Regions from separate parts of the Homo sapiens genome. Here region 2 is linked to region 1. The links come from fine-mapping of genetic effects on gene expression. A gene starts in region 1. The other region holds a variant in brackets. All regions are shown on one strand. Distances are between the middles of the regions. Region 1 holds the start of HOMER3 (homer scaffold protein 3). Region 2 overlaps LINC00663 (long intergenic non-protein coding RNA 663).

Region 1 (15,163 bases):
TGAAGTTAGGTGTTCAAGACCAGCCTGGCCAACATGGTGAAACTCCATCTCTACTAAAAATGAAAAAATTAGTTGGGTGTGGCGGCACGCACCTGTAGTCCCAGCTACTCGGGAGGCTGAGGCAGCAGAATTGCTTGAACCTGAGAGGGGGAGATTGCAGTGAGCCGAGATTGTGCCACTGCACTCTGGCCTGGATGACAGCGAGACTCTGTCTCAAAACAAAACAAAAAGACTTCAAACCAATCCACCATGGAGCTGGCTGATTCTCAACCCCTCCAGATTTTTTTTTTTTTTTTTTTTTGAGACAAGAGTCTCGCTCTCCCGCCCAGGCTAGAGTACAGTGGCGCGATCTCGGCTCACTGCAACCTCTGCCTCCCAAGTTCAAGCGATTCTCTTGCCTCAGCCTCCTGAGTAGCTGGGACTACAGGAATGCACCACCACGCCCGGCTAATTTTTTATATTTTTAATAGAGACAGGGTTTCACCACATTGGCCAGGCTGGTGTTGAACTCCTGACCTCGTGATCCACCTGCCTCAGCCTCCCAAAGTGCTGGGATTACAGGTGTGAGCCATCGTGCCTGGCCATGCCCCTCCAGATCTTGCCACCTCTGGCTAGGTGCCAAAGACTCTCAGGCCTTGGGCCCAAGGCCCCCTGTTCAGGGAGCTCCAAGGCCAGCCGACCCCCAATTCCCGCAGTGCCTCCCCTGATGTGGCCTCAATTTCTCCGCCCCACTTTCTGCCCTTCAAGCGCTGCTGATGGCGGAGGCTTCAAGGACGCCACAGCCAAAAATAATCGGGCCCCGACCTACCTCCGGAAATTGGGGCAGCCCCGCCCAGCCACCTGGCACCCAGGAGGTAATTAGTGCATGTGGCAAATTAGGGTAATTAGGTCTGCGGGAACTGAACCTCGGGTCCAGGTTTGCTGCTCAGAGGGGCCTCAAGCACTGCCTCCTCCCATCCCCAACTCACTCTGGTCCTAGGTCCTCAAATCCATAAACCAGTGCTGGCGACCCCAACTCCACGACCCTTTCTTGCCTGGGCCTGAGGGAGCCTGGCTCCATTGCTTCATGGGGGGTTGTTGAATGAATTAACTTTAGCCGTGGGCAGAAGTCAAGTTCTGAATTTAAGGCAGGGTCTCCTTCAAGTGATGCAAAATCACCAATAGTACTGAGTCATCAAACTCCCCCTTTGCCTGACCCCCATGCGTCCACACTATGCTGGAAGATGACAAACTCTAGGGAAACATGGGCCCTGGTCTCAGCCCTTGAGAGACACTCAGGCTGGGGGAGTCAAAGCTGCACACAGACACTCCCAGGAGTCAGGGCTGGGCCAGAAAGAGGGAAGAGGGCTGGAAAAGGTCTAGAGGTAGAGGAGAGAGCTTCTTGGGGAGGAGAGCATTGAAGGTGAGGCTTTGAGGGATGAATAGGAGTTTGCAAAGAGGCTAATGTCTGGAGGTTGGCCCAACCAGCTATGGCTTGGGGAATGAAGAGAAGGAAGAGGGAGGTAGCTGGAGGGGGCACCTGAGAGGCCAGGAGCTAAAGATTTAGAGGATGTCATGCCAGGTTGGACCCATTTCTGTCCTTGAGAGTTCAGGCCTGGTTGGAGTCCTCTAACTTCTGAAAAAGAAAAGAGTAAGAGGTTGGTTCAGGATCAAAACCACATACCAAAAATAAATATGATGTTTATAACAGCAAGCATTTATTAAGCACCTACAATCACGTTCTCTTCACATAACAACTCATTGGAGGCCAGATGCAGTGGCTTACATCTGTTATCCCAGCCCTTTGAGAGGCTGAGGCAGGCAGATCTCTTGAGTCCAGGAGTTGGAGACCAGCCTGGGCAACATAGTGACACCCCATCTCTACAAAAAATACAAAAATTAGCCAGGCGTAGTGGTGTGCACCTGTAGTCTCAGCCACTCAGGAGTCTGAGGTGGAAGGATTGCTTGAACCCAGAAAGTTGAGGCTGCAGTGAGCCATGATTGAGCCACTGCACTACAGCCTGGGCAACAGAGTGAGGCCCTGTCTCAAAAAAAAAAAAAAAAGAAAAGAAAAGAAAAGAAAGAAAAAGGGTGGGCGTGGTGGCTCACATCTGTAATCCCAATAGTTTGGGAGGCCAAGGCGGGTGGATCACTTGAGTCCAGGAGTTGGAGACCAGCCTGGCCAACATGGTGAAACCCCTGTCTCTACTAAAAACACAAAAATTTAGCCGGCTGTGGTGGCGTGCGCCTGTAATCCCAGCTACTAGGGAGGCCGAGGCAGAAGAATTGCTTGAACCTGGAAGGCAGAGATTGCAGCAAGCCGAGATTGCGCCACTGCACTCCAGCCTGGGTGACAGAGCAAGATTCTGTCTCAAAAGAAAAAAAGAAAAGAAAAAGAAAGAACTCATTGGATCCCTACAGTAAACCTCAGAAGTGAACACCATTCGTATGCCCATTTTATGGATGGGGAACCTGAGGCACAAAGAAGGGAAAGTGACTTCTTCAGGGTGGCACTGCTGGTAAGCAGCAGGGCTGGGATTCACTCCCTGGCTCACGTGATTCCGAAAGCCAAGTCGAAAGCTGGAACCTGGGGATCTCCTACTCCTGAAAGTGCTCATAGAAAGCTGTCACAGGGGCCAAGGGCGGTGGCTCACGTCTGTAATCCCAGCACTTTGGGAGGCCAAGGCGGGCGGATCACGAAGTCAGGAGATTGAGACCATCCTGGCCAACATGGTGAAATCCTGTCTCTACTAAAAAAAAAAATACAAAAATTAGCTGGGTGTGGTGGCGAGTGCCTGTAATCCCAGCTACTCGGGAGGCTGAGGCAGAAGAATAGCTTGAACCCAGGAATTGAAGGTTGCAGTGAGCCGAGATTGTGCCACTGCACTCCAGCCTGGCGACAGAGTGAGACTCCATCTCCAAAAAAAAAGAAAGCTGTCACAGGTCAGGCTTGTTCTAGGTGCAGGGACAAATCCATGTAAGAGGTGAACAGTAACCAAATCATGCCATAAACAATAAACAGACCTGAAGTAGTCACCAAGACCTTCACTGGGAGGTGGGCACCCAGCTTTCGGGAAGAGCAGGTGGACTGTCCCTGCTCTGGTGGCACAGAAAGTCTCTGGAGAGGAGAGACTGTTTAGCCTCACTCCAAAGGCTAGGTCAGATCTAACTAGGCAGAGACCAGAGCCTGAGCCATAAAAGCCATTCTGCAAATGCAGTTTTCTTAGTGCTGAATGAGCTGTTCAGGCTCCCGCTTGGTTTCCCCTTTAAGGTGGGAAGCTCATTCTCCCACACCATTTTTCAGCCCCAAAGGAAAGTTGCTTTCCTAGTCAGACACCTTGGGGTGGCCTCTGCCTGCCCTGCAAGGACATCTCAAGTCTGTTCCTTCCTTCCTTCCTCCCTCCCCCCCACCCTTTTTTGTTTTTGTTTTTGAGACAGAGTCTCCTTCTGTCACCCAGGCTGGAGTACAGTCACCTGATCTCAGTTCACTGCAACCTCTGCCTCCTGAGTTCAAGCAATTCTCCTGCCTCAGCCTCCCGAGTAGCTGGGATTACAGGTGTGCACCATCACGTCCGGCTAATTTTTGTATTTTCAGTAGAGACGGGGTTTCACCATGTTTTGACCAGGCTGGTCCCAAACTCCTGACCTCAGGTGATCTGCCTGCCTCAGCCTCTCAAAGTGCTAGGATTACAGGCATGAGCCACTGCACCCAGCCCAGTTCTTTAGAAGAGAGGCCTCCAGACCTAGGAAGAAGAGGGCCCAGACTGGGGTGGGGGCAGCAGCTCAGGGCAGCCCTCGTTAGAGACGAGGTCTCACTATGTTGCCCAGGCTGGTCTCGAACTCCTGAGCTCAAGCGATCCTCCAGCCTCGGCCTCTCAAAGTGCTGGGATGACAGGCATGAGCCCAGCCCCTTTCTGTGACTCTTATGTTACCTGTTTATTATATGACCAGGTCTAGGTGCTCCTCTAGGGCTGGCCCATCCATCCTGAAGCCTCAGTCTGACCCAGCATAAGAGTGACTATTCATCCCAGCAGGGAAACTGAGACACAGACTCTGTTTTCCCAGCTGCAGCAAAGAGTGGCAGGGCCTTTGCCCACGAACCTAATGGCAGGCACCCCAGAGGACAGCTGCTGATATTGACTAAATCCTTCATGTTTCTCCCTCTACTAGAAGCCCTGCAAGCATCGGCCCATTTTCCAGGTGAGAAAACTGAGGCCCACACTGAGGAAGCCAGTGCCTCAGTGTAGACTTGGCTAGTCCAGCTTCAGGTTGGGGCTGCTCAAGGCCAGCCCTGTCCCAGCCCCTCCCAGAGACCGGAGAGGGTGTTCAGGAAAGCAACTCAACCCTTCACTGTCTCTTTCACTGTTGCTTTCTGCCCACACAAAGGGCAAAGTCTGCCTGGGCCCCTCGCCCAGCCGCCCCTGTAAAATAGCCACAGGGCCCCACTTGTGCACTTGGCAAACTCTAAGCAGCTTCCAGAAGCCTTGGCCATGCCAGCACCTTTCCCAGATACTTTTTTATTTTTTCCATTATTTTGTTGGTAATAAGGAAAAGTCATTTTTTGCACAGAACAGACGGTATTTTCTTTGCTCCCCACAATGTTCAAGCATTTCGTGGCTTCCGGCCTGAGAACAGAGCCAAATCCTTCCCTTGTGCAGATGCCTCGTGAAGTTAGAAGCAGCCAGGGAAACCGAGTCTGTGCCTCAGTTTCCCCTGTGGGATGAACAGTCGCTCTTGTGCTGGGTCAGACTGGGGCTTCAGGATGGATGGGCCAGCCCTAGAGGAGCACCCAGACCTGGTCATGTAATAAACAGGTAACATAAGAGTCACAGAAAGGGTCTGGGCTCACACCTGTCATCCCAGCACTTTGGGAGGCCGAGGTGGGAGGATCACTTGAGCTTAGGAGTTTGAGACCAGCCTGGGCAACATAGTGAGACCTCGTCTCTAAAAATAAACTTTAAAAAAGAAAAAAAAAAGAGTCACAGGGATTGGGACAGGGGAGGGCAAGATCCCTTCCAAGGCCAGGGTAGTCAGAGAGGCTTCCTGGAGGAGGAGACAGGGTGGTGGCGCTGAGCCTGGAAGGACAAGGCAGAAGAGATGCCTGCAGCGAGGGCATTCCAGGTGGAAGGAACAGTTTGGGCAAAGGCCTGGATGGGGGAAGACTCAGATCTTGGCGCAGGAGTCAATCTCCAAAAACAACCTGACCTGGAATTCACCTAAAGGTAATTTGAATGTAATGTAACCGCCAGCTCAGATATACTATTCTTCTTAGAAGGAAACAGAAATAAAGGAACAGGGAAAGGAGACAGGAGCAGAGGTCTTGGAGATGAAAAGCAAAAGCCTCTCTGAAGTTGTCAAAACACTCAAGTGTCGGCCAGGTGTGGTGGCTCACGTCTGTAATCCCAGGACTTTGGGAAGCCGAGGGGGGCAGATCACTTGAGGTCAGGAGTTCGAGACCAGACTGGCCAACATGGTGAAACCCCATCTCTACTAAAAATACAAAAATCAGCCAGGTGTGGTGGCATGCACCTGTAGTCCCAACTACTCGGGAGGCTGAGGCAGGAGAATTGCTTGAATCTGGGAGGCAGAGGCTGCAGTAAGCCGAGATTGTGCCACTGCACTCCAGCCTGGGCAACAGAGTGAGACTTTGTCTCAAAAAAAAGAAAAGAAAAGAAAAGAAAAACTCAAATGTAAGATCAGAGCTTTAGGGCGCCACAGGCCTTGGTTCCAGGGAGCTGCAGGACCTCTGTCCACAAACGAACCAACGGCGCCGCACCGTGTGATTTTGGAGACGGTGCCAGAGAGGGGGCGGCACCAGGATTGACAAGTGGGACACATGGGCTTGGGGCTGGGGAGGTGGATCCTAGTTCAACTCCGGAAGGATGCTCTCCTGGCAAGTGTGGGAAGGGGGTGCTCCCTGTGACCAGAGGTGACAAACGCAGGCCAGTGGAGGCTGAGGGGATGCAACCATGCGTTGGAGACATTTCCTCAGCCTTTGGATTTTGGAACCCTCAAACAACAGCAAAGATAACCTTAATCCAACCATTGTGGGCATTTTTACCATCGTCTTGGGAGGGACAGAGGTGGACAGACGTCCCTGCTTAGGGATGGGACGGGCAGGGGAACAGAGGCTTCTCTCTCTTTGTCTTGCTTCCCGTTCCCTCCCGAAGTTGATCTCTTCCGTTTCCTGGCAACACCCATTGAGCACTTACTGTATGCAGACCCTGAGACCCACTGCCCCCTCCCCAACCTCACTGGGCCACCCATGTCAGCCCGGGAGGGACCTGACCTCCCTCACAGGCCCAAAGTTATGACCTCAGGTAGTGGGGACAGAGGCAGCTGTCTCCTGAGAAGGTGACAGGAGGGTGAGGTCACATCGCTGTCCGTGCAACTCTCTCCATCTGCTTCCTATCTCTCCGCCTGTCTCCCCCGTGTCTCTGTTTCTGGGTCTCTTTCTCATCCCAGATGTCCCTCTCCGTCTGTCTCTCTGTCCCCACCCTCTGCTCCCAACCCGACCCCACGCAACCCCCCCCCCCACTCCCCCTCCACCGCCCCTAACCCCCTCCCTCAATCCTCCGTCCCTTCCCCAGTCCCGGCCCCCGCCCCTCCCCCTTATCCCCTCCCCCATACCCTCTCCCAGTGCAAAAAGCCGGCAGGGGGCGCAGCGGGGCGGCCTTGGCGGCCCGGGGAGGCGGGGCGGGCGGCGGCCGCGTCGGGACCGGCCGCGATGGGACCGGAGGCGGCGCGGGCGGCGGCGGCGCAGACAAAGGCACGGGCGGCGTGGAGGGCGGCGCGGAGGGCGCGGGCCCGGGAGCCAGGGAGCGAGCGGGGCGCCCGGCAGCGCGGAGTCAGCGCCGCGGGGGCCGCACCCGACTCGCGCCTGGACACTCGCGGGGCGCCGACCTGGCAGGGTGAGCCCGGCCTGCCGAGCCTGCGCTGGGAGCGCGGGGGCCTCGAAGTCCCAGGGCCAAGGGGAGGGCGTGGGGGTTCCCCAGAAGTTTCGGACCCGGGACTGGGAGCGGCGCGAGGGGTCCCCAAGTTCCAGGGCTGGAGGGAGCGCGGGGGTCCCGAAGTTCTGGATTCAGGGTCTGAGAGGGGACTGCGTGGGAGGTTCCCAAAGTTCTGGACCCGGCGTTGGAGGAGGCTGCGAAGAGGTCCCCAAAGCTGCGGACCTGGGGTGGGGTACTGGGGTGGGAGGGGTCCGGACGTCCCGGACCCAGGGACTGGAGGGGTGGCAGGGGGTCCTCGAAGTTTAGGAGTCTAGGACAACGCGGAGGACCGGGGTCCCGGACCCAGTTAGAGGAGGAGTCACGAAGGGAGTCCCCGGAGTTACCGACCTGGGGTTGGAGGAGGCAGAAGAGGTGTCCCCCGAAGTTCTGGACCCAGAGACAGGGGGCGTCGCGGGAATCTCGGAAGTTCCAGGGTCAGAGCCCGCGTCCCGGAGTTGGGGCGTGCACTGGGTGTCCTGCCTCGGGTGGGGATGGGATCCTGAATTAATATTAACCCCCCCGTCCCCCGCACTCGGGTGCATGGGATGGGGCCTCATCCACCGGCCAGATTGGGGATCCCGGGCACCGGGCGGTGTCGGACCCCCCTCCGGGAGCCCCGTGGCCGGCGGCATCCGAGGCGCATGACTAGTTGGTGAGTAACTTTCCCCAAACGCTGCAAGTCGCAGCAGGAGCTGCCGGACCGGAAGGGCCTGGGTTCCGGGGACCCCTGTGTTCCCCAACTCCCACCCGGCGCAGGACCCGCCCCCAGTCCAGGCCAGAGCTGCCGCCCCACCCCCACTCAGGGGCTCCGGTTTCAGACCCTGTGACCAGGACAGCAGCTGCCCAGGACAGGATAGGGGGGGCATCCCCCCTTTGACCACAGAGGCCGCTGGGCCAGGGCCTCCCCTCCCCCACCTGTCTTCCCCCTCCTCCAAACTCCTCCTTGGTCCCCTGCAGATTCGGGGTTGCTGAATGGCCCAATGGGGAGGTTGGGGAGCCCTGGTCTCCCAGTGTGGATTCTGCTCTGCCCTCATGGTGGGCATTGGGATTGGCTGTTTGTCTACATCTTGTCTTTTTAACTTGGCTGGGGGCTCCCTGGGGATTTGGACTCTGGACTTCAAGGTGTGCTTCTGCCCTAGGGTGGGAGCTGCTGGGGGTGGGGTCCCTCTGCAGGGTGTAGTGGGGAACTGGTCTCCTGGTACTACACACCTCTCAACGCCCCATTTTTTGGTGGAGAGCCCCGCTCTGGCCAGTCATGGGTGAATGTGGTGGAAAGAACTCAGCAGAGATTTGGCCTCCACAGCTCAGCCTGGGATGGAGGGGACTTCACGGGGGTGCAATAACCAGGACAATGAGAAATTTACATCTGGATGTCAGCGGCCACCAGGCTCCTCTCAGAGGGCCATCTCCTGTACAGGGTGTTGTGGGGGCTTCCCCTAGACAAAGAAAGATGGGGTCTGCTTGCTCTGAGTTATCTATAATAATTATCTTACCTTTTTGTTTCTTTTTATAATTTCTTTCTTTTTTGAGACAGGGTCTCACTCTCTTGTCCAGGCTGGAGTGCAGTGGCCTGACCATAGCTCACTGCACTGCAGCCTTGACCTCCTGGGCTCAAGTGATCCTCCCACCTCAGCCTCCCCAGTAGCTGGGACGGCAGGCACATGCCACCACACCCAGCTAATTGTTTAAATTTTTGGTAGAGATGGGGTCTCGCCATGTTGCTCAGGATGGTCTCGAACTCCTGGGCTCAAAGGATCCTCCTGACTCAGCCTCCCAAAGCACCAGGTGTACTTTGGGCCTCTCCTGCCTTTTTGATTGAAAGTTCCATGACGGGCACACCTGGTGATGGGTCCTGAGATGGAACCTGCTTGGCCTCCCTCAGCCTGGCCTGAGGGACACTCATAGTCCCTCCTCTCTCCCTAGGGGCCAAACCAGTGCTCCTGCCACCTCTCTGGCTGCCCCCTAGAGCCTGCCCATCCCAGCCTGACCAATGTCCACAGCCAGGTGAGCTCCCACCTCCCCCAGCCTGGCCCTGAGCTTTCTAAGTGGGGGTGCCTGGCCCCCACCAAACACCCTCTCCCCACGCAGGGAGCAGCCAATCTTCAGCACACGGGCGCACGTGTTCCAAATTGACCCAGCCACCAAGCGAAACTGGATCCCAGCGGGCAAGCACGCACTCACTGTCTCCTATTTCTACGATGCCACCCGCAATGTGTACCGCATCATCAGCATCGGAGGCGCCAAGGTCAGGGTGGGGTCTGGGTGGGGCAGAGGCACCAGGAGTCCTGGTGACAACCTTGGGTCTGGTGGCTGGCTTGCTGTGTGCCCAAGGGACAGGAAACCCTAAGCCTTCCCAGGCCCTAGTCTCTATCTCCTGAAAGGGTTCAGAGTAAAGACCTTCAAGACCCTAATACAAGGTAATACCTGGGGGGTTTCATGTTTGTTAGTATCTGTCCCATCTACCTTGAACTTTGTTCCCCGACCCTAGGCCATCATCAACAGCACTGTCACTCCCAACATGACCTTCACCAAAACTTCCCAGAAGTTCGGGCAGTGGGCCGACAGTCGCGCCAACACAGTCTACGGCCTGGGCTTTGCCTCTGAACAGCATCTGACACAGGTGGGCCGGGTGAGGGGGAGAGTGGAGGGAACCGATGAGACTGGGCCCAAGTCTTCTCCTGGGCTCACTCTGGGATCTTGGGCAGGTCCCCTATCTTCCCATCTGCAGGATGGGATTGTAGGATGAGTTGAGACTGAAGCCCCTTTAAGCTTCCCCGGTTTGATTCCTAGTTCATTTTTCTGTTTTTTTTTTGAGATAGGCTGCAGTGATCTTGGCTCACGCAACCTCCGCCTCCCGGGTTCAAGCGATTCTCCTGCCTCAGCCTCCTGAGTAGCTGGGACTACAGGAGTCCGCCACCACGCCCAGCTAATTTTTTGTATTTTATTAGAGACAGGGTTTCACCATGTTGGCCAGGCTGGTCTCGAACTCCTGACCTGAAATGATCTGCCTGCCTCGGCCTCCCAAAGTGCTGCAATTACAGGCATGAGCCACTGTACCTGCTCTTGAGTCCTAGTTCTACTGCCTGTAGCTCTAATTTTGGACACACCCTGCTCCTCTTTGGGACATCAAATGGGTGGCTGGGCTGGGCTGGGCACTTTCCCACATGCCCCAGCAATACCTTCATCCTCACCTCCCTGCACCCTGTGCCGTCTCTATACTTCCATTATTATCTTTATCCGTGGTTTTGTTGATGATGAGTGCTTTCACGAAGATCTTCTTCTTTTTTTTTTTTTTTTTTTGGAGATAATGCCTTGCTCTGTCCCCCAGGCTGGAGTGCAGTGGCACGATCTCGGCTCACTGCAACCTCCACCTCCCGGGTTCAAGCGATTCTCCTGCCTCAGCCTCTGGAGTAGCTGGGATTACAGGTGCCCACCACCTCGCCCAGCTAATTTTTGTATTTTTAGTGGAGATGGGATTTTGTTGGCCAGGGTGGTCTTGAACTCCTGACCTCAGATGATCCACCTGCCTCGGCCTCCCAAAGTGCTGGGATTACAGGCATGAGCTACCACACCAGGCTTTCTTTGTTTTCTTCTAGAAGGTTTAGAATTTACCTTTCTTCTTTTTTTTTCCCTCCCTCCCTCCCTTCTTTTTTTTTTTTTTTTTAACAAGATCTTGCTCTGCTGTCCAGGCTGGAGTGAAGCAGTGCAATCATGGCTCACTGCAGCCTCAAACTCCTGGGCACAAGGGATCCTCCCACCTCAGCCTCCTGACTAGCTGAGACTATAGGCGTATGCCACCATGCCTAGCTAATATCTTTAATCTTATTTTTTTTAGAGATAGGATCTCACTATGTTGTCCAGGCTGTTCTTGACTCCTGGCCTCAAGCGAGCCTCTCACTTTGGCCTCCTAAAGTGCTGGGATTACAGGCTTGAGCCACTGCACCCAGACAATTTACTTTTTTTTTTTTTTTTGAGACGGAGTCTCGCTCTGTCGCACAGGCTGGAGTGCAGTGGCGCGATCTTGGCTCACTGCAAGCTCTGCCTCCCAGGTTCACACCATTCTTCTGATTCTTCTGCCTCAGCCTCCCTAGTAGCTGGGACTACAGGCGCCTGCCACCACGCCCTGCTAATTTTTTTTGTATTTTTAATAGAGACGGGGGTTTCACCGTGTTAGCCAGGATGGTCTCGATCTCCTGACCTCGTGATCCACCCACCTTGGCCTCCCAAAGTGCTGGGATTACAGGTGTGAGCCACCGCGCCCGGCCCCAACAATTTACCTTTCTAATTTAGGTCTTTTTTTTTTTTTTGGAGACAGAGTCTAGCTCTGTTGCCAGGCTGGAGTGCAGTGGCCCGATCTCGGCTCACTGCAACCTCTTCTCTCCAGGTTCAAGCAATTCTCCTGCCTCAGCTTCCCAAGTAGTTGGGATTACAGACACACCACACCTGGCTAATTTTTGTATTTTTACAAAATTTTTGTTTTTTTAATTTTTGTATTCTTAGCAGAGACAGGGTTTCACTATGTTGGCCAGGCTGGTCTCAAACTCCTGACTTCAGGTAATCCGCCTGCCTCAGGCTCCCAAAGTGATGGGATTACAGGTGTGAGCCACTGCACCCAGCCTAAAAAATCATTTATTTATTTATTTATTTATTTATTTTTTTGAGACAGAGTTTCACTCTTGTCCCCCAGGCTGGAGTGCAATGGTGCGATCTCGGCTCACCGCAACTTCCGCCTCCCCGGTTCAAGCAATTCTCCTTCCTCAGCCTCCCAAGTAGCTGGGATTACAGTCATGTGCCACCATGCCTGGCTGATTTTGTATTTTTAGTAGACATGGGGTTTCACCATGTTGGTCAGCCTGCTCTTGAACTCCTGACCTCATGATCCACCTGCCTCGGCCTCCCAAAGTGCTGGGATTACAAGCGTGAGCCACCACACATGGCCTTATCTATTTATTTTGAGACAGAGTTTTGCTCTGTCACCCAGGCTGGAGTGCAATGGCACAATCTCAGCTCACTGCAACCTCCACCTCCTGGGCTCAAGCAATTCTCCTGCCTCAGCCTCCCAAGTACTAGGATTACAGGCGCCCACCACCATGCCTGGCTAATTTTTGTGTTTTTAGTAGAGATGGGGTTTCACCATGTTGGCCAGGCTGGTTTCGAACTCCTGACCTCAAATGATCCGCCCGCCTTGGTCTCCCAAAGTGCTGGGATTACAGGTGTGAGCCACCGCACCCGGCCTAAAAAATTATTTTTAAACTAAGGAAATTTATTTTAAAACCGGGGTGGTGGGGGGAAACATATCCTATCCTAACTGGAAAACTGGTATTGCTTTGTCATAAATAGGTGGTAAATGTAAACATGTAAACATTTAATACAACAAAAACAAGAATGAGATGATTACTTTCTCATTGACTTCTGATGTCTCTCAGAGCCTGAGACCTAATCTCTTTGTTATAAAGGAATAATAACAGGTGTTAAAGACAGATTAGCACCCACCTGAGGCTCTCTTTGTTGAAATAGCCCTGATAAAGATTAAAAGGGACCCCACATGTTGGCTCATACCTGTCATTCTCACACTTTGGGAGGCCGAGGTGGGTGGATCACGGGGTCAGGAGTTCGAGACCAGCATGGCCAATATGGTGAAACCCCATCTGTACTAAATACAAAAATTAGCTGGGCGTGGTGGCACGGGCCTGTAGTCCTAGCTACTCGGGAGGTTGAGGCAGAAGACTCGCTTGAACCTGGGAGGCAGAGGTTGCAGTGAGCTGAGATGGTGCCACTGCACTCCAGCCAGGGTGACAAAGCGAGATTCTGTCCCCCCCCAAAAAAAAAAAAAAAAAAGGCTGGGTGCTGTGCCTGTAATCCCACCACTTTGGGAGGCTGAGGCAGGCGGATCACTTCAAGCCGGGAATTTAAGATCAGCCTGGCCAACATGGTAAAACCACATCTCTACTAAAAATATGAAAATTAGCCAGGCATGCTGGTGCATGCCTGTAATCCCAGCTACTCATGAGGCTGAAGCAGAGGCTGCCGTGAGCCAAGATCATGTCACTGCACTCCAGCCTGGGCAACAGAGCAAGACTCCATCTCAAAAAAAAAAAAAACAAAAAACAGGAAAAGGGCCATTCTGGGGAACATGGCTAGACCCCGTCTCTAGAAAAAATTAGCCGGGCATGATGGCACACACCTGTAGTCCCAGCTCCTTGGTGGAGGGGTAAGGTGGAAGGGTCACTTGAGCCAGGGAGGTCAAGGCTGCAGTGAGCCGAGATCATGCCACTGTACTGCAGCCTGGGTGACAAAGTGAGACCCTTTCCTAAAAAGAGGACATGGGAATTCCTTTCCCTTTCTCAATGTGGCCCAATGTATTTAAATGCCACCTCTGTGATCTGATGCCACCTGCCCACCCACCATGGTACATCATTTTTCAAAGTTTCTCTCCTTCTTCCAAGGTGTGTGATAAGGGGATGGGTACGGTTCGAAAGTGGCGGGGCTGTCACTGAGTGATGGTGACCTGTTTGGGAGGATGGGCTGGGGTTTTACTGTCTTTTCCTCCCCACTCCCTTAGTTTGCCGAGAAGTTCCAGGAAGTGAAGGAAGCAGCCAGGCTGGCCAGGGAGAAATCTCAGGATGGCGGGGAGCTCACCAGTCCAGCCCTGGGGCTCGCCTCCCACCAGGTCAGCACTCCCTACTCCCCTATGCCTGCCTGGGCACCTGTGAGTCAGCCAGGCGCTCAACTGATATTGGGGGACCTTGATATTGGGAGACCGGGGCACTCTGCTGGTCGTCAAGACCCAATGCTTCCAGATGACCTAAGGTTAGACCCACAGCAGGGACCACAGAGGAGTGGTGTGGAGTGTGTCATAGAGGGTCTGGACCTTGCCTGGGGCCGGTGGGGTACACCCAGTAGGTCCCAGTAGCAAAACCAGCTCAGATGGCAGGATGGAAGACTAGAAATTGAAATGGCTAAGTGTGGCCGGGTGCGGTGGCTCACGCCTGTAATCCCAGCAATTTGGGAGGCTGAGGAGGGAGGATGACTTGAGGCCAAGAGTTCGAGACCAGCCTGGCCAACATGGTGATACTCCACCTCTGCTAAAAAATACAAAAATTAGCCAGGCGTGGTGGCATGCGCCTGTAGTCCCAGCTACTCGGGAGGCTGAGGCAGGAGAATCGCTTGAACCCAGGAGATGGAGGTTGCAGTGAGCCGAGATCGTGCCACTGCACTCCAGCCTGGGTGACAGAGTGTGACTCTGTCTCAAAAAAAAAAAGAAAGAAAGAAATGGCTAAGTGTGAGGCAGAACAACGAACTGTCCCTGCGTGTTTTCCCACATTAATTTATTCAGCATTATTTATTGAGCACCTGCTGTGTACCAGGCCGAGGGCTGTGCACAGGGGTTGGAGAGATGAAAAAAAGCATGAGCCTCCAGCTGCTGCCTGCACTGGGCTGCGGTGGCGCTGGCCTCTCGCAGGGCACCCGCCAGCTTGTCTACCCTCAGAGCCAGTGGTCCAGGCAGTGGGGTTGCTCACGAAACACGAATTCGGCCTGGGCAGGGCTTCCTGCTGAAATCCTAAACGTGATGTTGAAGTTCGGCCTCAGGGAAGGGAACAGCAGGGAGGTGTCCGATTGTACCCCTCCCCTACCTTACAGGTTCTAAGTATCTTGGTTTAGACTAACCTGCATCAGACTTGCTCCTGGGGGTGGTGAAAGCCCAGGAAGGCAAGGTCGAGGGCGTGGGCATGGAACTCCCAGCTTAGGGGCCACAGGGAGCCATGGAGGGTGGGTGAGGTGGGGAGGGACACACTTGGATCCTGTGCTGTGAAGGACCTGCTTAGGGTGCATAGGTCAATTGCACCCCCGATGTGACGACCCCAGTCACATCAGCCTTGATCCCAGCTGATGTGGGGTCGTGACCTATTCTTTTCCCCGTGCCTAGGTGCCCCCGAGCCCTCTCGTCAGTGCCAACGGCCCCGGCGAGGAAAAACTGTTCCGCAGCCAGAGCGCTGATGCCCCCGGCCCCACAGAGCGCGAGCGGCTAAAGAAGATGTTGTCTGAGGGGTGAGGGGCGGGACTTGGGGGCGTGGCAGGGGCGGGGGTAGGGGTGGGGGACGAGGAGGCGGTTCTTGGAAGCCAAGGGAGTGCCAGGACGGCGGGATCTAACTGTGGACTCAAGACCTGGGGAAGGGGATGAGGATCTGAATGCT
Region 2 (15,163 bases), 820 kb before region 1:
CGTTCTCAATGAGCTGTTGGGTACACCTCCCGGACGGGGCGGCTGGCCGGACGGGAGCTGCCCCCCACTTCCCAGATGGGGCGGCTGCCGGGCGGAGGGGCTCCTCACTTCTCAGACGGGGCGGCCGGGCAGGGACGCTCCTCACCTCCCAGATGGGGTGGCGGCGGGGCAGAGACACTCCTCAGTTCCCAGACGGGGTCGCGGCCGGGCAGAGGCACTCTTCACATCTCAGATGGGGCGGCAGGGCAGAGGTGCTCCCCACATCCCAGATGATGGGCGGCCAGACAGAGACGCTCCTCACTTCCTAGACGGGATGATGGCCGGGAAGAGGCACTCCTCACTTCCCAGACTGGGCGGCCGGGCAGAGGGGCTCCTCACATCCCAGACGATGGGCGGCCAGGCAGAGACGCTCCTCACTTCCTAGACGGGGTGGCGGCCGGGCAGAGGCTGCAATCTCGGCACTTTGGGAGGCCAAGGCAGGCAGTTGGGAGGTGGAGGTTGTAGCGATCCGAGATCACGCCACTGCACTCCAGCCTGGGCAACATTGAGCACTGAGTGAGCGAGACCCCGTCTGCAATCCCGGCACCTCGGGAGGCCGAGGGTGGCAGACCACTCGCAGTCAGGAGCTGGAGACCAGCCCGGCCAACACGGCGAAACCCCGTCTCCACCAAAAAATACGAAAACCATCAGGTGTGGCGGCGCGCGCCTGCAATCGCAGGCACTCGGCAGGCTGAGGCAGGAGAATCAGGCAGGGAGGCTGCAGTGAGCCGAGATGGCGGCAGTACCGTCCAGCCTCGGCTCCGCATCAGAGGGAGACTGTGCAAAGGGGAGACGAGGACCGTGCAAAGGGGAGAGGGAGGGGGAGGGGGAGAGGGAGAGGGCTTATTCTAAATTTACCTTTTTATATTGGAAGTGAGTTTCTTCTAAAGAGAATATGCATGGTCATATTTATTAATCAGTGTTGTCAGGCCGGGAACAGTGGCTCACGCCTGTAATCCCAGCACTTTGGGAGGCTGAGGCGTGCGGATCACGAAGTCAGAAGATCGAGACCATCCTGGCTAACACGGTGAAACCCCGTCTCTACTAAAAATACATAAAAAATAGCCGGGCGTGGTGGCGGGCACCTGTAGTGCCAGCTACTCGGGAGGCTGAGGCAGGAGAATGGCGTGAACCTGGGAGGCGGAGCTTGCAGTAAGCCAAGATCTCGCCACTGCACTCCAGCCTGGGCGACAGAGGAGATTCCGTCTCAAAAAAAAAAAAAAAATCAATGTTTTCAATCTTTGTCTCTAATTGATTATTTTATTTTATTTATTTATTTTTGACTGGTGGCAGTAGAATTTATTCAAATGTGCCTTAATACAGGTGCTAGGGCTTGCCGGTGGTGCTCTTGTTATATAAGGGCCGGACATTCTGCCGGTTTTCCGTGAGCAGTGACATCAGGAAGTTTACAGCCAGGTGAATGTTACACACATCGTCTGTGTGTAACATCGTCTGTCATCTTCACGTGGCTGACAGCCACAGCCAGACATAGCACCTTCTTCATTTGGGTGTTGATTGTGAACTTCACCTCATCCACTTTGGCCAGCATGTTTTTGTTGTGTGTCAGCGGAGATCTACTTGGTTAATTCAGAACATTTAACAGTTAAGTTAATTTTGTTAAAACTAGCCTGATACGTTGTTTTCTGTTTGTTCTCTCTGTTTTGTTCCTCTGTGTGATTTTTACTTTCTTCATGTAGATAATTTGAACATGTTTTAAAATTTCATTTATTTGTAGTGTTTTTGAGTATAGCTTTTTTAGTGTTAGATCAACGTATTACATTATATTCAGAAATTATCGTAGTTAACAATGTTTCAATTGTTCCTTGATATTCAAATACAATTTATAAAACACAAAAGGGAAAGAAAGCCTATTGTATCTACCCTCATTTTATCCCAGCATAGAAGGCACATTGGATAAAAGTTTTGTTTGATAAGGTGTCTTTCCTGGTCTTTTTGGCTGAAGACAGGAGTCTGTTGTTGGGTTTGCTTTTTGTTTTTTGGGGTTTTTTTGAGACAGTGTCTCTCTGTCACCAACGCTAGAGTGCAGTGGCATAATCACAGCTCACTGCAGCCTCAACCTCCCCAGGCTCAAGCCATCCTCCCATCCCAGACTCCCAAGTTGCTGGGACTATAGGTGTGCACCACCATACCCAGCGAATTTTTTGTAGAGGTGGTATTTCACCTCTACAAAAAATGATGCCCAGGCTGGTCTTGACCTCCTGAGCTCCAGTGATCCACCCGCCTCAGCTTCCCAGAGTGTTGGGATTATAGGCGTGAGCCACTGCACCTGGCTGAGAAGTATCTGGTTAGATCCTTTCCCATTTTAAATTTAGATTCTTTTTTTGTTTGTTTTTTGCTATTAAGTCATTTGAGTTCTTTGTATATTCTGGTTATTAATACCTTATTGGGTGGGTATTTTGAAAATACTTTCTGCCATTCTGTAGCTTTTCTCTTTACCTTGTTAATTTTTTTTTTTTTTTTTTTTTTTTTTTTGCTATGCAGAAGCATTTTGGGTTGATATAACCCCATTTGTTTTTGTTTTCGTTGCCTGAGCTTTTATGGTTTTACTAAAAAAAAAAAAAAAAAAAACCACTATCCAGACCAGTTTGTTCATTTTGGGTAACTGAAACTTTGTATCCCCCCAACCCCCGTTTTTCTTTCAGCTCAGCTTCTGGAAAACACCATTCTACTCTCTGCCTCTACACGTATAATTACTTCATATTTCACATGTATGTGAGATCATGATGTATTTGTCTTTCTATGTCTGGCTTCTTTCAATCGTGCCTTAATGTGTACCTTAGTATCCTTCAGGTACATTCATGTTGTCACAAATGAAAAGATTTACTGGCCGGGCGCGGTGGCTCACGCCTGTAATCCCAGCACTTTGGGAGGCCGAGGCAGGCTGATCAGCTGAGTTTGGGAGATCGAGACCATTCTGGCTAACACGGTGAAACCCCGTCTCTACTAAAAATACAAAAGATTAGCCAGGCATGGTGGTGGGCGCCTGTAGTCCCAGCTACTCGGGAGGCTGAGGCAGGAGAATGGTGTGAACCCAGGAGGCAGAGGTTGCAGTAAGCCAGGATCGCGCCACTGCACTCCAGCCTGGGTGACAGAGACTCCATCTCAAAAAAAAAAGAAAAGAAAAGATTTACTCCCTTTTTAAGGCTAATATTCTATTGCATGTATATACTACCTTTACTTGACACATTCATGTATCCTTCATGGACATTTAGGTGGCTTCCATATCTTGGCTATTGTGAATAATGCTGTAATAGACACAGAACTATGTAGCTCTTCAAGATCCAAATTATATTCCCTTTGGATGTATCCCCAGAATTGAGTTTAATGAATCAAACTGTAATTTTTTTTTTTTTCGAGACGGAGTCTCACTCTGTCACTCAGGCTTTAGTGCAGTGGTGCGATCTCAGCTCACTGCAACCTCTGCCTCCCGGGTTCAAGCAATTCTCCTGTCTCAGCCTCCCGAGTAGCTGGGATTACAGGTGCGCACCACCACTCACAGCTACTTTTTTTTTGTATTTTTAGTAGAGACAGGGTTTCACCATGTTGGCCAGGCTGGTTTTGAACTCCTGACCTCAAGTGATCCTCCCACCTCGGCCTCCCAAAGTGCTGGGATTACAGGCATGAGCCACCACACCCGACCTATAATTCTGTTTTTAACTTTTTGAGACAACTGTATGTTGTTTTCCATTGTTGCTGCCAATTTTAATTCCTGCCAGCTGTGTACAAAAGTTCCAGTATCTTCATAACTTTAGCACGCTTGTTTGTTTTTAATATACCTGTCCTCACAAGAGTGAGGTGATGCCTCACTGTGACTTAAATTTGCATTTGACTGACATTTAATGACACGGAGCATTTTTTAAAATATACCTGTGGCCATTCTTATGTCTTCTTTGGAGAAATGTTTATTTAGGTCATTACTCATTTATTAATCTTGTTATTTGGGGTTTGCTATTGAGTTGTAGAAATTCCTTGTATTTTTGGATATTAACCCTTTATCAGATATATTATTGGCAACTATTTTTTTCTCATTCCTTAAGTTGCCTTTTCATTTGTTGAATTTGTCCTTTGTTCAGAAGTTTTTCTATTCGAGGTAGTCCCACTTGTCTGTCCTGATTTTATTGCCTGTTCTTTGTCTTACTATTTTGTTTTTTTGAGACAGGGTCTCATTCTGTTGCCCAGGCTAGAGTGCAGTGATGCAATTTTGGCTCACTGCAACCTCTGCCTCCCAGGTTCAAGCAGTTCTGCCTCAGCCTCCTGAGTAGCCAGAACTACAGGAGTGCACCACCACACCCAAATAATCTTTAAAATAGATTTAGTAGAGATGGGGTTTTGCCATGTTGGCCAGACTGGTCTCCAACTCCTGACCTCAGGTGATCCGCCTGCCTCAGCCTCCCAAAATGCTGGGATTATAGGTGTGAGCCACCACACCCGGCCTGTTGCCTGTTCTTTTGAAGTCTAATTTAAAAAAAAGCATCTCAATGTCCAAAGTTCTGAAAATTTTTCCATATTTTTTTTCTAGCCATTTTATGTTTTCAGGTCTTATGTTTAAATATTTAATCCATTTTAAGTTAATTTTTAATATGGTATGAAGTAAGAGTCCACATTTATCCTTTTGCATATAGAGATCCAATTTTTCCAGCACTATTTACTTAAAAGACTCTCATTTCTCTGTTGTGTATTTTTGGCACCCTTGTTGAAGATCAGTTGATTGTATGCATATATTAGATTTATTCTGGGACTCTCCATTCTGTTCCATTGTTCTTTATGTCTGTTTTTATGCCAGTACTATCTTGTTTTGATGGCATTGCTTTCTAATGTTTTGAAATCAGAGAGTATAATATCGTCAGCTTTGTTCATCTTGCTCAATACTGCTTTGACTGTTTAAGGTCTCTTTTGGTTCCAAGTAAATCTGTAATTATTTTTGTCTAGTTTAATAATAAATGCCATTGGGGTTTGGATAGGGCTTGCATTTACTTTCTATATCACTTTGGGAAGCATGGACTTTTATTTTATTTTATTTTATTTTATTATTTTATTTTGAGACAGGGTCTTGCTGTATCACCCAGGCTGAAGTGCAGTGGCACAATCATGGCTCACTGCAGCTTCAACCTCCTGGGCTAAATCAATCCTCTCACCTCAGCCTCCAAGTAGCTGGAATCACAGGCATGCAAAACTATGCCGGGCTAATTTTTGTATTTTCTGTAGAGACAAGGTTTCACCATGTTGCCCAGGCTGGTCTTGAACTCCTGAGCTCAAGCAATCCACCTGCCTTGGCCTCCCAAACTGCTGGGGTTATAAGCATGAGCCACCATGCCTGGCCAGCATGGACATTTTAACAATATAAATTTTTCCAGTGTATTTTCTGTGCCCCAGGAACAGGCCAAAAGCTGTTTCAAAAAAAAAAAAGAAAGAAAAAAAGAAAAGAAAGGAAGGAAGGGGAGGGGAGGGGAGAAGGGAAAAGAAAAGAAAAAGAGCAATTATCTACATAGGATGGCATGATTTTCCTCCAAAATCTTTCCTGTGATTAACACAGGAGCTTTCCAGAAGCTCCAAAGATCATCTGTATCTGCCATCAACAATTTCAGCACCTTTGACTCTATTGGAAGACATGACCCAAGTGACACGACAGCCTGGATCTGATGTAGAATATTCTTTTCTGCTGAGTAAAGAAAAGCTAGCAGCTTTTTGGGTCACAGGGTAAATGGGCCAGAGTAACTTACCAAATGAGAAATATGTTACCTTCAAAATCAAAAGGCCCACTAGAGTTGTGCCTCTTTTTTGTTGTAGTAGAAGCCAAATATAACAACTTACTCCTCTGCTTCCAGGGGATACGTTGGCATGTCCCAAACCATTGGGACCCTATAAATCTCACAAAGATAGAAGGCTTCTGAAATTTTGTTGGATTAATGTCCTACATCCTGACATAAATTTCATACCAGTAAGTCTAGAGTGAGCTTCTCATACCAATAAGTCTAGTGAGTTTCTTGCTCACTATATTCAATGAGCATAATACCATCAATGTAAAGAACCAGTGTGATAGTTTGTGGAAGGAAAAGGTGACCAAGATCCCAGCAAACTAAGCTGTAACATAAGGCTGAAGAGTTGATATATCACTATTATTGACTGAACTATGTCCCTCTAAAATATATATGTTGAAGCTCTAACCCTCAATGTGACTGTAATTGGAGATAGGCCTTTACGGAGGTAATTAAGATTAAATGAGAGCCGGGCGCGGTGGCTCACGCCTGTAATCCCAGCACTTTGGGAGGCTGAGGCGGGTGGATCACCTGAGGTCAGGAGTTCGAGACCAGCCTGGCCAATATAGTGAAACCCCATCTCTATGAAAAATAAAAAAAATTAGCCAGGCGTGGTGGCGGGCGCCTGTAATCCCAGCCACTAGGGAGGCTGAGGCAGGAGAATCACTTGAACCCAGGAGGTGGAGGTTGCAGTGAGCCGAGATTGTGCCGTTGCACTCCAGCCTGGGCAACAAGAGCGAGACTCTGTCTCAAAACAAAACAAAACAAACAAACAAACAAAAAAAGGTTAAATGAGGTTATAAGGCTAGGGTTCTATAAAAAAAAAAGTCATTATAAGAAGAGAAAGAGACATTAGAGATCTCCCTTACCACAAAAGCACAGAGGAAAGTCCATGGAAGGACATAGAGAAGGTGGTCACTTACAACCCAAGGAGAGAGATCTCACCAGATGCCAGTTCTGATGATCTTGATTATAACTTCTACCTTCTGCAACTGTGAGAAGAAAATACATTGATTAAGTCACTCAGTCGGCATGCTGTTACAGAAGCCCGAGCCAATTACTAGTGTGTGAGGTAGGACAGTGACGGTGTGTTTCTGTCTTTGCCACCTGAAAGCGAACTGCTTCTGGTGGTATTTATTAACAATGATAGAGAAAAAAAAGTATTAGGCAGATGAATAGCTGTACACTAGGTACCAGGGATGTGTATATTTGCTCAAGTAATAAAACAACATCTGGTACAACAACTGCAATGGGAGTCTCCATATGATTTAAGCTTACGTTTATCCAGTATAATTCTCCAAGATCTCTTATGTTTATTCAGTGACTTACATAGGATGAAATGAGAGCCATGACCCTTGGATGGTTCCTTTTTTTTTTTTTTTTGAGACCAAGTCTAGCTCTGTCACCCAGGCTGGAGTGCAGTGGCACGATCTCAGCTCGCTGCAACCTCTGCCTCCTGGGTTCAAGCGATTCACCTACCTCAGCCTCCCGAGTAGCTGGGATTATAGGTGCATGCCACCACGCC[C/T]GGCTAACTTTTTTTGTATTTTTAGTAGAGGTGGGGTTTCACCATGTTGGTCTCCAACTCCTGACCTCATGATCCGCCCACCTCGGCGGGCTCCCAAATCTGAACTCAGCACTCCCAAAGTGCCACCTCTCCCAGCCTACCCTTGGATCTTTTAAGACCTTCCTGGTGGCCTCAGTCTCTGAAATCCCTGTACGAATGTGCTGTTGCTTTTGGTTGACTTTTTCCTAGGAATACGCAGTTCTGATGACTTCATCTTGACCTTTTTTTACCAAAATAGCTCTCGCTCCACTGGTCAGGGAACCAGTTTGGCATTCTACCAGTTGCTGAGTATGTCTAATCTAATTATGTATTCCAGAACGGGGAAGATAACCGAAGGGTGGTTTGAGAAACCCACCAGGCCAACTGGGAATTAGAATTGATTCAAAACTCCATTGATCGCCTGACCTCCATAAGCTCCTACTCTGGTAAATGCCCTGCAATGTCATTTCAGTTCTCCTGGAATTAGTATCAGTTCAGAAACTGTATTCAGTAATTCCTCAAAGGTCTGATTATTTCTTTTTTCCCAATGCAAAGGTTCTCCGGTAAAAGGCCATAGTTTTCTTTGGGGAAAAGAGGGGGACAAATTAACAGTATATATTTGTAATAGTATACTGGATTTCTTCCTCATAGGGACCCAGCATCTCATTGATTCAAGGAGTTCTGGGTCTATAAACTAATTCGAGACTGGAAATTAATTGAGAAGCCAAGCCAGGTGTGGTGGCTCACACCTGTAATCCCAGCACTTTGGGAGGCCGAGGCAGGTGGATCACAAGGTCAGGAGTTCAAGACCAGACTGACCAACATGGTGAAACCCCATCTCTACTAAAAAAAATACAAAAAGTAGCCAGCGTGGTGGCACGCACCTGTAATCCCAGCTACTCGGGAGGCCAAGGCAGGAGAAGTGTTTGAACCCAGGAGGTGGAGGTTGCATTGAGCCGAGGTTGCGCCACTGCACTCCAGCCTGGGTGACAGAGTGACACTCCATCTCAAAAAAAAAAAAAATTGAGAAGCCATAAATCTTTGGTTTTGTTTTTTGTTTCATAATTCAGGTTTGGCTTTGTTTGACTTGAACTTTTCTACTTATATAGATCAAGTAAAAACTTAGTAGTCTTCCTGTCTATTCTAATTCTTTTTTTTTTTTTTTTTTTGAGACAGAGATTCGCTCTTATTGCCCAGGCTGGAGTGCAATGGTATGATCTCAGCTCAGTGCAATCTCAGCTCACCGCAACCTCTGCCTTCCGGGTTCAAGCGATTCTCCTGCCTCAGCCTCCTGAGTAGCTGGGATTACAGGCATGCGCCACCACACCCAGCTAATTTTGTATTTTTAGTAGAGATGGGGTTTCTCAATGTTGGTCAGGCTGGTCTCAAACTCCTGAACTCAGGTGATCCTCCCGCCTCGGCCTCCCAAAGTGCTGGGATTACAGGCATGAGCCACTGCGCCCTCTATTCTAATTCTAGGAAGCCCATGAGTCAAACTATTCTTATTGCTTGCTTTGACTTTGCAGTCTGTTAAATAACCATTCCCACCATTTTTTTCACAGCTGCAGTTGAGTGCTGCCACTTAAATCCTGCAGTCCCGAGATCCGGTTATAACCAATGCATTTAGATTTTTCATTTCGGTGGCAACAATCTTCATTGTAAGTTCTGTCCTACAGAGAAGTGTGGTGATCAAGCTCTTTGGAGATACTGGGACTCCTCTCACAAATGTATGTCTCACAGTTATGATGAATGGTGTATCTCCTGGATCTTCCTCAGTTGAGTATGTTTTAAAGGAAAAATACACTTTATCATTCAAATCTTTCAAAGCTTTTGAATCACTTTATAGCAAACCAATGAAGATCCAGCATTTCATTCTTTCTTTTCTTTTTTCTTTTTTTTTTTTTTTTGAGACAGAGTTTCACTCTTGTTGCCCAGGGGCTGGAGTGCAATGGTGCGATCTCGGCTCACCGAAACCTCCACCTCCCGGCTTCAAGTGATTCTCCTGCCTCAGCCTCCTGAGTAGCTGGGATTACAGACATGCACCACTACACCCAGCTAATTTTGTATTTTTAGTAGAGAAGGGGTTTCTCCATGTTGGCCAGGCTGGTCTCGAACTCCCAACCTCAGGTGATCCTCCCACCTCAGCCTCCCAAAATGCTGGGATTACAGGTGTGAGCCACCGCACCTGGCCCTCATTTTAACTTTTTAATATCCAATGTTTTCTGAATGAATACCCCCACTTTAAAAGTAGGCATCCTGCAAGCCTGGGAATTTAATTTTTGTTGTAATTCAGCCAGTTATGGGATGAGATGCTATGATTTCTTTTCAGCATTTTGAGCCCTGAAGCTGCAGGAGTTAAGTATCTTCTTCAGGGCTACATATAAATTTTTAGGATATTAATGCAGTACTTGTATTAAAAACTTGGAATCCCTGACTTAATCCTTTTCTTTACCCAGTTTGTCCAGCAACATCAGAAGCAAATATCAAATCTCATTATACTCGTTAGTCTGACAAAAAGACCCAGATTGTATACAAAATCACCTGGATACTTGCACCTTTTAAGTGTTTGATTAGCAGTATCTAATGGTGATATCTTGTGTATTTCTACTACCAGATTACGCCAAAAACTATTCAAGTACATTTTACTATTAAAAATAAAATCAAGGCTGGGCACAGTGGCTCACGCCTATAATCCCAATGCTTTGGGAGGCCAAGGTGGGCAGATCACCTGAGGTCGGGAGTTTGAGACCAACCTGACCAACATGGTGAAACCCCGTCTCTACTAAAAAGACAAAAATTAGCAAGGTGTGGTGGCACACGCCTGTAGTCCCAGCTACTCAGGAGGCTAAGGCAGGATAATTGCTTGAACCCAGGAGGCAGAGGTTGCAGTGAGCTGTGATGGCACCACTGCACTGCGGCCTGGGTGACAGAGCAAGACTCTGTCTCAAAAAATAAATTATTTAGGTTCTTTATTTGATCAAAAGACTACAGTAGAAAAAATATGTAATCACTTTAGTATATCCTTGAATAAAATATGTGATGATTAAGAATACCAAATAGGATAATAGAAACTTCTGGCTGGGAATGGTGGCACATGACTGCAGTTCCAGCTACTCAGGAGGCTGAGGTGAGAGAATTGCTTGAGCCCAGGAGTTTGAGGCTGCAGTGAGCTATGATTCCATCTGTGACTAGCTACTGCACTCCAGCCTAAGAAACATCAGAGATCATGCTTTGAAAGGAAGGAAGGAAGGAAGGAAGGAAGGAAGGAAGGAAGGAAGGAAGGAAGGGAGGGAAGGAAGGGAAAAGGCAAAAATAAAATTCTTATTAAGCAAAGATATTTGTGCAAACATCATAATCAACAGCAAACATCAGAAGTGTTTCAATAAAGAAAAGTCTAAGACAAGGGCCGGCAAGGCCTCTCCCATTTATCACTGTGAGGGATGCCTGAGTCTGGACCAGAAGAGAGAAGAGGAGGAAACAGGAAAGAATGTAAGTCAAAGAATTTGAACTGTAGTTATCCACAGAGGCCATGAGTACAAATAGAAAAGCAGGGTAATCGATTTCAACTTTCAGAACAAAAACTGTTTAACAACATTCAGGAAATTGAGCAAATGCACATTGTATATATAATAAATCTTGAATCTTTCATACTAATAATAAACATACAGTAACAATAACAAAGAGTCAGCCTCCATCCACATTAGCAAACGTGCCATGAAATCGACTTAGAAGACATTCCCAGGCCTATGTGAAACCATAAAACTTTACTGAAAACCATAAAAAGACACATTGAGGCCGGGCGTGGTGGCTCACACCTGTAATCCCAACACTTTGGGAGGCCAAGGTGGGCAGATCATGAGGTCAAGAGATTCAGACCATCCTGGCCAGCATGGTGAAACCCCATCTCTAGTAAAAATACAAAAGTTAGCTGGGCGTGGTGGTGCGTGTCTGTAGTCCTAGCTACTCGGGAGGTTGAGGCAGGAGAATCGCTTGAACCCAGGAGTTGGAGGTTGCAGTGAGCCAAGATCGCGCCACTGCACTCCAGCCTGGGCAACAGAGTGAGACTCCATCTCAAAAAAAAAGACACATCAAAGACTAACAAACCAAATCCTTACATTAGAAGAAGTAGTGAAATAAAGATACTAAAGATCCAGACTCAGTGCACTTCAAACTTTTTGAAATAGCTATTCTAACAGATGTGAGGTGACATCTCATTCTGGTTTTAATTTGCATTTCTCTGATGATTATTGAACTTGGGCTTTTGTTCATGTACTTTTTGCTCATATGCATGTCTTCTTTGAGAAATGTCTATATCAAGTCCTTTGCTAATATTTTATAGTATTTGTTTTCTTGCTGTTGGACTGTTTGAGTTTTTATACATTTGTGATATTAATGCATTATCAGACGTATAGTATAGAAATGTTTTCTGTCATGCAGATGCTTCTTAGAGACAAGGCCTCACTCCATTGCCCCTAGGCCAGGCCTGGTGAGTGACAGCAGCCCTGGTGCCCCAGCCTGCTAGGGCAATGTGTCACCCAGAGGCTTCAAGGCCCTTCTCACCATGGTACCCACCTCCTCGAAGCTGCCTCCCAAAGCCCTCTAGCTGCTGCTGCAGCCACAACAAGTGCCACCACCAGGGGCCTTCCAGCTGCCAGTGCAGGCTTTCCAGAGCCGGGGACTGGGGAACCTGCAGTCATCACCTCAGCAATTCTGGTGGCAGCCAGGCCAGCCAGGGCAGCGATGATGACCGTAATGAAAAGTGGGATGACAGCTCCACACTGGTGGATGAGTTGAGAACACCAGGCAGAGGCATGTACCTGGTCTTTGATGGTTCAGTGGACCTGCACTACCATTGCAGTGCAAAGTGCAAGAGTTGAAGCTTGGAAACCTTCACCTAGATTTAGGAAGATTCATGGAAAAGTCTGGATGTCCACGCAGAAGCCTGCTGCACGAGTGGAACCCTCATGGAGAATCTCTACCAGGGCAGTGTGGAGGGGAAATGTGGGGTTGGAGCCCCCACACAGAGTCCCACTGGAGGACTTCCTAGTGGAGCTATGAGAAGAGAACCACTGTCCTCCTGACATCATAATGGTAGATCCACTGGCAGCTTGCACTCTCAGCCTGAAAAAGCTACAAGTACTCAAGGCCAGCCCTTGAGAGCATCTACAGGTGCTAAACCCTGGAAAGCCACAAGTGTGGTGCTGCCCAAGGCTTTGGGAGCCCACCCCTTGTACCAGCACGCCCTTGATGTGGGATAGGAGGTCAAAGGAAGTTATTTTGGAGCTTTAAGATTTAATGACTGCTCTGCTTGGTTTTGGACTTGTGTAGGCTTGTAGCCCCTTTCTTTTGGCCAATTTCTTCCTTTTAGAATGGGAATGTTGATCCAATGCCTATACCCCCATTGTATCTTGGAAGTAACAAACTTGTTTCTTATTTTACAGGGTCATAGGCAGAAGGGACTAGCCTTGTCTCAGATAAGACTTTGGACTGTGGACTTTTGAGTTAATGCTGGAATGAGTTAAATATTTGCAGGACTGTTGAGAAGGCATGGTAGTTTGTTTGTTTGTTTGTTTGTTTGTTTGTTTGTTTGTTTTTTGAGACAGAGTCTCCCTCTGTCACCAGGCTGGAGTGCAGTGGTGCGATCGCAGCTCACTGCAATCTCTGCCTCCTGGGTTCAGATGATTCCCCTGCCTCAGCCTCCCCAGTAGCTGGGACTACAGGCCTCCATCACCATGCCTGGCTAATTTTTTGTATTTTTGTAGAGATGAGGTTTCACCTTGTTGGCCAGGATGGTCTCGATCTCCTGACCTTCTGATCTGCCTGCCTCGGCCACCCAAAGTGCTGGGATTACAGGCGTGAACCACTGCACGCAGCCGGTAGTATTTTGAAATATGAGAAGGACATGAGATTTGGGAGAGACCAGAGGTGGAACAATATGGTTTGAATCTGTGTCCCCGCCCAAATCTCATGTTGAATTGGAATCCCCAGTGTTGGAGGTAGGACCTGGTGGAAAGTGATTGGATCATGGGGCGGTTTCTCATTAATGGTTTAGCACTATCCCCTTAGCGCTGTTCTTGTGAGAGAGTTTGCATGACATCTGGTTGTTTAAAAGTGTGTGGCACCTCCCCCCACACTTCCTCCTGCTCCAGCCACGTAAGACATGCCTGTGGCCGGGCGCGGTGGCTCACGCCTGTAATCCCAGCACTTTGGGAGGCTGAGGTGGGCGGATCACGAGGTCAGGAGATCGAGACCATCGTGGCTAACACGGTGAAACCCCGTCTCTACTAAAAATACAAAAAATTAGCCAGGCACGGTGGCGGGCGCCTGTAGTCCCAGCTACTCGGGAGGCTGAGGCAGGAGAATGGCGTGAACCTGGGAGGCGGAGCTTGCGGTGAGCCAAGATCGCGCCACTGCACTTCCGCCTGGGCGAAAGAGCGAGACTCCATCTCAAAAAAAAAAAAAAAAAAAAGCAAAGACGTGCCTGCTACGCTTTCACCTTCCACCATCATTGAAAGTTTCCTAAGGCCTCTCCAGAAGCCGAATAGATACCAGCATCATGCTTCCTGTACAGCCTTTAGAACCATGAGCCAATTAAACCTCTTTTCTTTATAAATTTCCCAGTCTCAGGTGTTTTTTTATGGCAATGCAAGAACACACTAATATAGCTGAGTTATTGGGGCCACATCAGTGGAACCTATTCAGTGGAGTCATGTGGGACCTGGTCAGCAGGGCCTGGCGAATAGGTCCTTGTGAGTGGGGGTCTGGTCAGTGCTGACCTGGTCAGCAGCAGCCTGGTCAATAGCACCTGGTCAGTGGGGGCCTGGTCAATGGGGACACAATCATTGGAGACCTAGTCAGAGGAAGCCTGGTGAGCAGGTGCCTGGTCAGTGAGGACCCGGTCTGCGGGGACCTGGTCAGAGAGGACTGGTCAGAGGGCCTGGTCACTTGGGGCTACACCAGTGTGTCCTGGTCAGCATGGGCCTGGTCAGCTGAAATGTGGTCAGTGGGGGCCTGGTGAGTGTGACCTGGTTATTGGGGTCCTGGTCAGTGGAAACCTGGTCAATGAGGCCCGGTCAGTGGAAATCTGGCAATGGGGGCCCAGTCAGTGGAGGTCTGTTCAGTAGGGACCTGGTCAGTGGGGACCTGGCTACTGGGGTCCTGGGTAGTGGGGCCTAGCCAGTAAAGGTCTGATCATTAAGGACCTGGTCAGTGGGAACCTCATCAGTCAGTGGAGGGACCTGGTCAGTGGGGTCTGGAATTGGGGGGCCTATCAGTGGGGCCTGGCTAGTGGGGCCTACTCAGTGGAGGTCTGGTCAGTGGGGTCCTAGTAAGCTGAGGCCTCATCATTTGGGGCCTGGTCAATGGGGACCTAGGGAGTGAGGGACTTGTCAGTGGGGCCTAGTCAGCGAAACGTGGCCACCAGGAGCATAATCAACTGTGGTCTTGTCTGTGGGGGCCTGGTCTTTGGAGTCCTCATTAGTGGGGCCTGGTCAGTAAAGGTCTGTTCAGTAAGGACCTGGTCAGTCAGAACCTCGTCATTTAAGGCCCAGTCAGTGGAGACGTTGACAGAGGGGGCCTTGTCAGTTGGGCCCAGTCAGTGGAGGCCTGGCAGTGGAAGCCTCATCCGTGGGTCCTGGACAGTGAGGACTGGTCACTGGAGGTCTGATTGGGGGTTTTGTGAGTATAGCCCAGTCAGTGGCGGCCTAGAAGTGGAGGCCTCATCAGGGGGTCCTGGCTAGTGGGGTCTAGTCAGTGGTGGTCTGGGGTCCTGGTAAGTTGAGGCCTCATCAATTGAGGCCTGGTC

Evidence for each region. PIP is the estimated chance that this variant, and not a neighbour inherited with it, causes the effect. A credible set is the group of variants that fine-mapping cannot tell apart.
Region 2: its variant is the best candidate, but not a certain one, in a credible set for the expression of HOMER3 in pancreas (GTEx, PIP 0.72).

The regions. Positions count from the first base shown.
Region 1 is chr19:18,932,778-18,947,940 of GRCh38, reverse strand. HOMER3 (homer scaffold protein 3) reads left to right here and starts at 6,724. Exons shown (of 10, transcript NM_004838.4): 1 at 6,724-6,890; 2 at 8,892-8,972; 3 at 9,057-9,213; 4 at 9,457-9,588; 5 at 13,531-13,638; 6 at 14,896-15,017. The coding sequence starts at 8,959. It overlaps HOMER3-AS1 (HOMER3 antisense RNA 1), which reads right to left and starts at 7,687. Exons shown (of 3, transcript NR_134913.1): 1 at 7,317-7,687; 2 at 1,713-1,860; 3 at 1,110-1,615. RefSeq lists a silencer at 6,561-6,760 and an enhancer at 14,135-14,753.
Region 2 is chr19:19,755,180-19,770,342 of GRCh38, reverse strand. LINC00663 (long intergenic non-protein coding RNA 663) reads left to right here. Exons shown (of 3, transcript NR_026956.1): 2 at 7,697-7,805; 3 at 11,797-13,972. Among named protein-coding and RNA genes, the nearest start is that of LINC00663, 14 kb to the left of the region's middle. The variant C/T (reference allele first, on the strand shown) is at 7,342.